Regions from separate parts of the Homo sapiens genome. Here region 1 is linked to region 2. Evidence: fine-mapped expression QTL. A gene starts in region 2. The other region holds a variant in brackets. All regions are shown on one strand. Distances are between the middles of the regions. Region 1 overlaps PDIA3 (protein disulfide isomerase family A member 3). Region 2 holds the start of SERF2 (small EDRK-rich factor 2).

Region 1 (5,373 bases), 40 kb after region 2:
ATTGCCCAGGCTAGAGTGCAATGGTTCAATCACAGCTCAGTGCAGCCTCAACCTCTCTGGCTTAAGCAATCCTTCCACCTCAGCCTCTGAGTAGCTGGGACTATGGAAGCCTGCCTGTATCTTTAGTAGAGATGGAATTTTGCCATGTTGCCCAGGCTGGTCTCAAGTGATCTACTTGCCTTGGCCTCCCAAAGTACTGGGATTACACTTTTTTTTTTTTTTTTAAGAGACAGGGTCTTACTCTGTCACCTAGGCTGGAGTCTAGTAGTGTGCAGTGTCTAGTCACTGCAGCCTCAAGCAATCCTCCTGCTTCAGCCTTTTGAGAAGCTGGGACTACAGGTGTGAGCCAACACACCCAGCTTTTTAAATTTTTTGTAGAGATGAGGTCTTGCTTTGTTGCCCAGGCAACAAACTCCTGGCCTCAAGTAATCATCCCAAAGTGCTGGAATTACAGCTGTGAGGCACCATACCTGGTCTATTTTACTTCTTATGCCAGTAATTTCCTTACTCTCACTACTTTTAATTTTTTTTTTTTTTTTTTTTTGAGACGGAGTCTTGCTCTGTCACCAGGCTGGAGTGCAGTGGCCCGATCTCGGCTCACTGAAACCTTCATCTCCTGGGTTCAAGCAATTCTCCTGCCTCAGTCTCCTGAGTAGCTGGGACTACAGGCACGTGCCATCACACCCAGCTAATTTTTGTATTTTTAGTTGAGACAGGGTTTCACCGTGTTGGCTAGGATGGTCTCAATCTCTTGACTTCGTGATCCACCCACCTCGGCCTCCCAAAGTGCTGGGATTACAGGCATGAGCCATTGCGCCCAGCCACTACTTTTAATCTTTTGAAACTACAAGTCAGTTGTGTATTTGCCCAGAAACTAGTATTCGCTCTTCTTAGCAGAATAAGAGTAGAGAAAATGAATGTTAATCTTACAAACTATTTATTACTGTTATTTTTTTCCATGTAACAAAGCTGAGACAACAAACTACTTTTTAAAATACTTCACGTCCTTTAGTGAAGAATCCACCTGTACTTACCTTTGCTAATGGGACTATTCCTTTTAATCTGGTAGCTGCAGCTTCATACTCAGGTGCAAGTCTCTTGCAGTGTCCACACCTATATACGTATTAAAAAAGCCAAATTCTCAGTTTAGTCCTATGAATTTGTTAATGTTGTCTCACTAGGAAGAATCTCAAACTATAATACTACCTTTGAGCTAGTAGACACTTCCAAAAAGCAAAATCATCACATGAACAACATTCATTATTGTTAAAGTAAACCAGAACTCTCAAGAGGTAAAGGTCCTACCCCTAGACTGAGGTTGACTCCATAGTACTGGCTCAGCACAGGGCAGCTCTATTTTCTCAATACAAAGTATAACTAAGTTGTGAAAGCTGTAGTCAAAGGTGTACGCCACATTATTAAAGAGGGTTGAATGGGTTAATGCCCTTTTGACCAATTAATGAGGCTGAATGAAGGACAAAATAGAAATAATCCCATTTCTGATAGAATTCCCCAGAGGAAAATACAATTCCCTGGGAAACCAGCATTGTGGTTGTTAAAAATAGTGACTGAAGCTCACACCTGTAATCCCAGCACTTTGGGAGGCCAAGGCGAGTAGATCACTCGAGGTCAGGAGTTCAAGACCAGCCTGGCCAAAATAGTGAAACCCCGTCTCTACTGACAATACAAAAATTAGCCAGGCGTGGTGGTGGGCACCTGTAATCAAAGCTAATCGGGAGGCTGAGGCAGGAGAATTGCTTGAACCTGGGAGGTGGAGGTTGCAGTGAGCTGACATCGCGCCACTGCACTCCAGCCTGGGTGACAGAATAAGACTCTGTCTCGGGGTGGGGGTGGGGACACAAAATTGTGACTGAAACCCTGTAATGTCTCAAGTATGATATTAAGTCTTTTAGATGGCAGGCCTGATTTTTACAGCTACATAGTTCACCTAGCCATGAGAAGTGATAACAAAACATGTAAACTAGAATACCTTTCCCAGAGGGCCACCAGAAGCACCGGCTCCTCTGCCCAGAAAATCCTAATCAGTGTATATACAGCTAGCACCAGCTGTACATCACCTTTTCAAAAGCCAAAGGGTTGCAGAGGGATCACGTTGAGAAGGTGAGTTCTGTAACCTTCCCGTAGACAGCAAAAATAGAAATATAATAGAGAAGAAACTTGAGCAGATATATTTCAATAGTCAATGGTGTAATTTTATCAAGTGATGGATAACTTGGAAATATTGTACACCTAAAACTTGTTTAAAATAAAGGATTATAACAGCTTATTCTCCAAGGCCTTCAGGCGGCCTATTAAAGTATAAAAGAACCAAATGATAAATACCAAATTCAAGATAAAGGAGTGTATAAGATGGTAAAGGGGCACATAGGGGACTTCAAATGTACTGGCTATGTTTTTCAGACTGAGTGCAAACAAATGCTATTCCTTATGCTGTATTTCAGATTCATTGTTTTTTCCTGATATTAAGATGTATTTTGCAGTCATGTTATAGTTTCAGTGGTAGTATTTCTTTCTCAGTGAGACACAAGATAGTTCCTCTCACAATCAGTGGTATCTTATGTGTGTGAAATAGGGTCTTATTCATTATATCCTCTGTATTCCTTTAATACTGCATAGTAAATGGATTTTAAAGGGAGTAACAATTGGATCTGGGTCTTTAAGGATTTAACGCTTCAGAGAGAAGAGGGCAGGGTATTTAAGATGAGGGAGATAGTAGAGCAAACGTAAAAGAATACCAGTAAGCATGATGCATTCAGAGAACTGTAAAGGGCTTTTGTGAGATAATAAATGTGCGTGCACGTGTACTAAGACTACGTCAATCAGCAATGTCAAAGACTGACAGAAAGGGAGAAAATAGAGACAAGAGTAAAGCCATCTAGAAGATAATATATTTCACATGGCAGACAATAAAAGCTTGGACCGGAATG[G/C]CAGCAATGAGAATAAAGAAGAGACAGATGAGAGATTTCTGTTGAATATATAGTAGTTGTCAAGGCTGAGGCAACAGATTTATGAGTTAATTGTTTCAACTATCTTCAAACATTTTAAGAGAAAAAAATCACATACAATAGTTACTAGGTCAAGCCAGTAGGTGTCAACTCTAGATGCTTATCAAAAATACCCACAGAGCATTAAAACAACAAAAGTATGCATGGCTTACTGAATGAGAATCTCCAGAAATCTGGGGAGCAACCAGGTGTGTGTGTAAGCTGCAAGGCTGGGACTAAAATCCACTGCCTTAAACTTTGGCAATATCCATAAGGTCATCAAATCCACAAAAAGAGTTTCAATGAGGCTGGAGGAGACTCTCCTCTTCAAATCCAGCAGGAATGGAACTCAGGTGGTATTTAAGGGAAATCAGGGTTGGTTAACATACATCCTTCAAGATTAACCACTACTTCTTTCACCCACCCCTAGAAAATATTAAAACACAATTAATTCTATCTATCCTCAGGGATGGCACCTGGCAGTTGATAATGAATTCCAACATATATTCACCCATAATCATCACTTCATCATGTGTGCCATGCGTCAAGTACTTTTTGATAAGTGCCTTATCAAGTGTCTTTGATAAGAAAATTGGTATAGTCCTTTCCTTATAGGAACACCAGTCTGGCAGGGGTGACACAGTATTATTAGATGCCAATAGAGAGGCAGGATCAACCAGTTAGTTGTCCAGGGAAGGAAAAAAAAAATATGAGCTAAATGTTGATGTTGAAAAGATCAACTCGGGGTGGGGATTACAAGTAAAGAAATTAGCACATATATTATTTTTTTTTTTTTTTTCGAGACGGAGTCTTGCTCTGTCACTCAGGCTGGAGTCCAGTGGCATGATCTCAGCTCACTGCAACCTGCACCTCCCAGGTTCAAGCAATTCTCCTGCCTCAGCCTCCTGAGTAGCTGGGATTACAGGCTCCTGCCACCGTGCCTAGCCAATTTTTGTATTTTTAGTAGAGACAAGGTTTCCCCATGTTGGCCAGGCTAGTCTCAAACTCCTGAACCTCGTGATCTGCCCACCTTGGCCTCCCAAAGTGCTGGGATTACAGGCGTGAGCCTTTGCACCCAGCCATTATTTATTACTACTGTCTTAGAGGGTAGCATACACATCTATAGCATAAATAGATGTTGAGGACTTTTTTTTTTTTTGAGAAGGAGTCTCGCTGTCGCCCAGGCTGGAGTGCAGTGGCGTGATCTTGGCTTACTGCAAGCTCCACCTCCTGGGTTCACACCATTCTCCTGCCTCAGCCTCCCGAGTAGCTGGGACTACAGGCACCTGCTACCACGCCCAGCTAACTTTTTGTATTTTTAGTAGAGACGGGGTTTCACCATGTTGGCCAGGATGGTCTCGATCTCTTGACCTCGTGATCCACCCGCCTTGACCTCCCAAAGTGCTGGGATTACAGGCGTGAGCCACCGTGCCCGGCCAAGGACTTAATATTACATATTAACACTAATCAATAAATTTTCGGACATTTCCAAACATTTAAATAGTGTTATTTCCCCAGAGAAATTCAGATACTCTTATCCTTAAAAATATATAGCAGATTAACTCCATAATGGAAATATTAGTCTACAAAATCAACTGCAAAGAAAGCTTTCACTAAGCCAGGCACGGTGGCTCACGCCTGAAATCCCAGCACTTTGGGAGTCCAACGCAGGTGATTCAGGTGAAGTCAGGAGTTCAAGACCAGCCTGGCCAACATGGTGAAACCTGGTCTCTACTTAAAAAAAAAAAAAAAAAAAAAAATTAGCCAGACAGGGGAGGCGGAGGTTGCAGAGCCGGGATCGCGCCACTGCACTCCAGCCTTGGCAACAGAGAGAGACTGTCTCAAAAAAAAAAAAAGCAAGCAAAGCAAGCTTTCACCTTTCACTTTCACTTGAAACATGAAAGCGGAAAAAGAATTTGCTTAAATAGGTCTATTTTGTGACGAGAATAAGGTTAAAAAAAAAAAAGCCCATTTTACTTTCTTTTTTGAGATGGTCTCACACTGTCATTTAGGCTGGAGTGCAATGGTGCAATCTCAGCTTCCTGCAACCTCCACCTCCCAGGCTCAAGTGATCTTCTCCTCCCACCTCAGCCTCCTGAGTAGCTAGGACTACAGGCGTGTGCTACCATGCCCGGTTAATTTTTGTCATTTTTTAGTAGAGATGGGGTCTGGCCATGCTGCCCAGGCTGGTCTCTTACCTCGCCACTGCCTCCTGGGTTCAAGTGATTTTCCCAACTCAGCCTCCCAAATAGCTGGGATTACAGATGTGCGCCACCACGTCCAGCTAATTTTTGTATTTTTAGTAGAGATGGGGTTTCCCCATGTTGGCCAGGCTGGTCTGAACTCCTGATCTCAAGTGATCTGCCTG
Region 2 (5,373 bases):
TCCATGAGGAATGACAGAAGAGAAAGTGAACGCTTGACAGCAGCTGACCACGGGAAGTCGGTGAGCAGCAGGATTTTTTGGCCAACTTTCAAGCAGACGAACAAACTGAGGAAGAATGAGGAAAAGAGGCATAAACACAGATCTTGCAGCATTCACTCTTAGGCCAACTCCATCCTAGAGATGGTGTTCAAGGGTGGGGAACAAAAATCACAGAAAAGAAGTCTCTATGGTTCTTAGAGGATTCCTCTACTGCATATCCGGAGTACTTGTTTGGTTGTCATTGTATAATAAAGGCTTCTTCTGTGATGTTTCACTTATTAAGTCTACATACCCACAATCTGAATCTAAAGAGTTCTCCCTTTTTTGGTGGGAAAGGGCAGTCATTCTTCCAACCCCATCCCCCCAAGTCCCCAGTCAAACCAGGCGCTCAAGGAATTACAAAGCTACTTTTAATACTTTGGGGTGAGCCCCACAGGAATAAAAAACACTGGGAAGGGGTAACCCCCTCACCCCCGGGAGTGGCCCAGGGGGAGAGAGGCTACCTGAGGGGAAGGAAGCACAAAAGGGACCCGCTGCAGACTCAGGGCAAAGGGAATGCCATCGGTGCTGGGACCTGTGAGCACTACAGGAGGAAACGCGAGCGTGGTGGGACTGGCTCCAGGCACACAGGCGAAGGGCAAGAGGGTTGGACACGAAGCCACAAAGCTACTTGGGTTCCTCCTTCTTCTCGTTTGCCTTTTTCTGCTTCTGCTGCATGATCTCCGAGTCCCTGGGGGTAGAGATGATGGGGCACTGGGAGGTACCAGAGGGCAAAAAGGACAAGATGCAGGGGGATGAAGGGCACAAAGGATAAGATGGAAGTGGATGGGACTAAGTTCAGCGTTTGGCTGCTGTACTCCCACCCTAGGAGAACAAGAGGAAGAGAGCTGAGGCTCAAAAGGCGACCAGTCTCCATCTGGCTGTTGCCCAAGGGGTCAGAAGTCTGGTGACACAGGCCCAAGGGTCTCTATTCTGTATTGAGGACCACACCCAGCAACACCAGTGAGGAGGTTGGGAGAAGGGAGGAGAACCGAACAGCAAGGAGGGCCAAAAGTACTGGGCTGCCGTAACCACAACTGTATTTGAAATGTGAAGCTCCCTGCCCTTGCCCTTAAGGTCAGACCCAGGGACGCTCAGAAATCAGACTGAGGGCAGGCGCCCGCCCCCGTCCTTTCCTGTAAGGCTGTGAGCTAACAATTTGGAGGGTGGGGAGGAAATAAAACCCTAGAGGAAGCAATGCACTCTGCTCCTCACGACTAGTCCACATTCAAGCCCTGAGGTAGCTCTCTTTCCTTCTATAACCCTTGGTCTAACCCAGGTCTCCACCGTCCCTTTCCCTCCCCTCCCTGGGGCTACCTCTGCTTGCGGGCGGCAGCAGAAAGCCCGTCATCTCGGCGCTTTCCCTTAACCGAGTCGCTCTGCTTTTTCATATTCTTCTGGCGGGCGAGCTCACGCTGGTTACCGCCTAAGGAAAGAAAATTAAAGGTGAGACGCGGGGGCCGCTCTGCCCACACACCGGCGACCCTTCTACCCCAGCGCGGCCAGCAGCAGGATCCAACACCACTTCAATCTCCGGGCCCCGACAACGGCCCATCGAGGCCCAGGCTGCTTGGGGTAGGGGGGAGTGGCGAATCTGCCACGGGCCAGGTCAAAATACGGACTAGAGAAGGGAGGTCCCAAGGGGCCAGCTGGAGGCGTGTTTTGGGGCGGCGTGGGGCCCAAACAGCTGGCAAGGTGTGTGTGGACGGTTTGGGTCTCCGTGGGGGATGGGCTGGCTTGTGGAGTGGGGGCTCTGGGCCTATCACAGGGGCGCTGGCCTTCTCCTTACACCGCGGAAGATCCGGGAGGGCCTATGCCTAACCCGGGAGGGTGGTCCCGTGAAGTAGCCGTGGGCAAAGGGCTCGATTTCCGGGCACCGAGTGTGAGGGTGGCCACAGAGCGCGCCCAGAGAAACGCCTTGCTAGGGAAGCTACGGAAGGTCAAAGCCGGCGCCTCGCCGGTGGTGTTTAGGGTGAACGGAAAGAAAAGGGCAAGGAGAAGGGGGCTCGGTGCTCACGGGTCATGGCGACGGCAGCGGCTCCAACCTGCCTCCGTTACGTCCCCTCGTTCTGTCGGACGTTGCAGGTCCCGCCCCTTCTGGCAACGTAGCACAGTCGTTCCTTTCCTCCCCGCCCCTTCGCGCCCGGGAGCCGGCTCCCATTGGACAAGAAAAAGCACGTGGATCCACGGGTCGTGCTTGAGCCGGGGTGGGTAAGTGGCGGAGGGTCGCAGGCGGAGCGCTCAGCGTGGGGCGGGGCTTCCCGAGTGAGACGTAGGGACGGGCCTGGAGAAACTAGGCCGGGTCACGTGGGCAGGTTGGGGGTGGAGGGGTGCGGCTGGCGATGTGGCGCTCCCGCGGGCTCGAGCACGTGACCGTGCAGAGTGACCTCATGCGGGGACAGTTTGGGGTACTGACAAAGTCGCCCTGAAAGAACGCCCGTAGACAAGAGGGCGGGGTTTCAGCCAGTTCTGTGTTACGAGTACTCTACTACTAAACTTGTGCTTACTTAGGACCACCTCTCAGCCACTTATTTGGACACGAGTTGTTCACAGCTCGCTTAAAATCAAGTACAAACACAACTTCAGAAACCCGCTTCTACTCCCATTGTCCCCTTCCACGCCCCTTCACTGTAGAAAATCGCAGCAACATCTGGTATTTCCTAAAACTCTACCCTGTTCGTTTTCCCCCAGAAACTTTAAATGTGAACATGCAGCTTGGAAGTATTGGAGGACTCCAAAAGTCACAGACTATGGAGTTGGATCAGTGGCTGAGATTAGATAATTCACATATTCGCTTTTCCCCTCTGGAGCTTTTCTTACTGTACCATCGCCACCAGCCACCCGGTTTTGTATTAAGACCCTGGAGGGCCGGGCGTGGTGGCTCACGCCTGTAATCCCAGCACTTTGGGAGGCTGAGGTGGGCAGATCAGAAGGTCAGGAGTTCGAGACCAGCAGCCTGACCAACAATGGTGAAAACCCTAAAAATACAAAAAATTAGCCGGGCGTGGTGGCGCGCCTGTAATTCCAGCTACTTGGGAGGCTGAGGCAGGAGAATCGCTTGAACCCGGGAGGCGGAAGTTGCAGTGAGCCGAGATCGCGCCATTGCACTCCAGCCCAGGCGACAGTGCGAGATCCCGTCTAAAAAAAAAGTTAATAAGAATTAGCCGGGCGTGGTGGCGGGCGCCTGTAGTCCCAGCTACTCAGGAGGCTGAGGCAGGAGAATGGCGTGAACCCGGTAGATGGAGCTTGCAGTGAGCCGAGATCGCACCACTGCACTCTAGCCTGGGCGACAGAGCGAGACTGCATCTCAAAAAAAAAAGAGTTAATAAGAAAGGCTGGGCAAGGTGGCTCACGCCTGTAATCCCAGCACTTTGGGAGGCAGAGGCGGGTGGATCACGAGGTCAGGACATCGAGACCATCCTGGCTAACACGGTAAAACCCCGTCTCTACTAAAAATACAAAAAAAAAAAATAGCTGGGTGTGGTGGCAGGCGCCTGTAGTCCCAGCTACTTGAGAGGCTGAGGCCGGAGAACCGTGTGAACCCAGGAGCAGCAGCTTGCAGTGAGCCGAGATCACGCCACTGCCCTCCAGCCTGGGCGACAGAGCCAGACTCCATCTCAAAATAAATAATAAATAAACAGTTAATAAGAGACACCCAAGCTGGAGTGCATTGGCGTGATCTCGGCTCACTGCAACCTCTGCTTCCTGTGTTCAAGCTATTCTCCCACCTCAGCCTCCCAAGTAGCTGCGATTACAGGCACCCGCCATCATGCCCGGCTAATTTTTGTATTTTTGTTTTTCTGGAGATGGGATTCCATCATGTTGGCTAGGCTGGTCTGGAACTCCTGACCTCAGGTGATCCGCCCTCCTTGGCCCCCCAAAGTGCAAGGATTACAGGTGTGAGCCACGGTGCACAGCCACAATTGGGTATATCTTGATGAGCACAGCATATTCCTATAATCATGAAAGATACAGAGAAAAAAGCTCTCTCACACTTTCTCTCTCTCCCTCTCCCTGTCTGCCTCTCTCTCTCTAATATCCATATATGTATTTATATGTCTGTCTATATATATGAATTTTTGGTTTTTTTTGAGACAGTCTTACTCTGTTACCCAGGCTGGAGGCTGGAGTGGTATGCTCTCGGCTCACTGCAACCTCCACCATCTTGTATTCAAGCGATTCTCCTTTCTCAGCCTCCCGAGTAGCTGGGATTACAGGCACCCGCCACCACGCCCGGATAATTTTTTTTTTTTTTTTTTGAGATGGAGTCTTGCTCTGTCGCCCAGGTTGGAGTACAGTGGTGCGATTTCGGCTCACTGCAACCTCCACCTCCCAGGTTCAAGCAATTCTCCTGCCTCAGCTTCCCGAGTAGCTGGGCCTACAGGTGCGTGCCACCACGCTCGGCTAATTTTTGTATTTTTTAGTAGAGACAGGCTTTAACCATGTTGGTCAGGCTGGTCTCAAACTCCTGACCTCAGGTGATCCACCTGCCTCGGCCTCCCACAGTGCTGGGATAACAGGTGCAAGCCACTGTGCTCGGACTGTATTTTTTTTTAGTAGAGACAGGGTTTCACCATGTTGGCCAGGCTGGTCTCGAACTCCTGACCTCAAGTGATCTACCCACCCCAGCCTCCCAAAGTGCTGGGATTACAGGCTTGAACCACCATGCCCAGCCTATATATGAAAACTGATCATGATAATAGCTTTAAAGGAAAATAACAGATTCCACGCAAGGATGATATTCAAAATGTTTCGCAGTGCACACAGCTTAAGCACTGACCCATAAAAACAGATGTCAGTGTAATTTGAATGAAGACTCTGTGAACAATTCCACCTGGTATGAAGTAACTAAATAGTACTGCTGGTGCTATGAAGGGAGTACACCTGTGGACTCTGTAGACTTTAATTTTGATTAGGGAGGTGAAGTAAGTGATATTTGAGCTAAAGCAAAAAGATGAGAAATTAGCCAAGCCCAGGAGGGAAGGGCAGGGAGAACATTTCAGGAGGGAACAGCACGTGTGAAGGCCCTAAGGCCCTCCTCCCTCAGGTCATCCCATCAAGAGCCACAGGATTATTGTGTAGGTAAAGGGCAAGTCACTAATGCCTAATGAGCAGGGTGGTGTGAAACTAGGTCAGATAGGGAGGTAGGGTTGTGACAAGATCCAAGTTACTACTGCTAATATAACTACTAGCTAACATCAGGTGGGTTTTTATTTGGTACATTTAGTGTACTTTTCTTTTTTTTTTTTTTTTAGACAGAGTCTCACTCTGTCGCCCAGGCTGGAGTGCAGTGGC

The links. PIP is the estimated chance that this variant, and not a neighbour inherited with it, causes the effect.
Region 1: its variant is the best candidate, but not a certain one, in a credible set for the expression of SERF2 in whole blood (INTERVAL, PIP 0.60).

What each region holds. Positions count from the first base shown.
Region 1 is chr15:43,749,564-43,754,936 of GRCh38, reverse strand. PDIA3 (protein disulfide isomerase family A member 3) reads right to left here. Exons shown (of 13, transcript NM_005313.5): 2 at 1,035-1,113. Among named protein-coding and RNA genes, the nearest start is that of PDIA3, 5.8 kb to the right of the region's middle. The variant G/C (reference allele first, on the strand shown) is at 2,949.
Region 2 is chr15:43,789,106-43,794,478 of GRCh38, reverse strand. SERF2 (small EDRK-rich factor 2) reads right to left here and starts at 2,159. Exons shown (of 3, transcript NM_001018108.4): 1 at 2,096-2,159; 2 at 1,396-1,504; 3 at 1-769. The coding sequence starts at 2,102. The coding sequence ends at 706. It overlaps SERINC4 (serine incorporator 4), which reads left to right. Exons shown (of 12, transcript NM_001258031.2): 12 at 1-317. It overlaps SERF2-C15ORF63 (SERF2-C15orf63 readthrough), which reads right to left and starts at 2,503. Exons shown (of 6, transcript NR_037673.1): 1 at 2,096-2,503; 2 at 1,396-1,504. MIR1282 (microRNA 1282) reads left to right here and starts at 720; the gene lies at 720-820. RefSeq lists enhancers at 158-1,011, 1,347-1,676, 1,465-2,664, 5,065-5,154, 4,957-5,373 and a silencer at 2,397-2,476.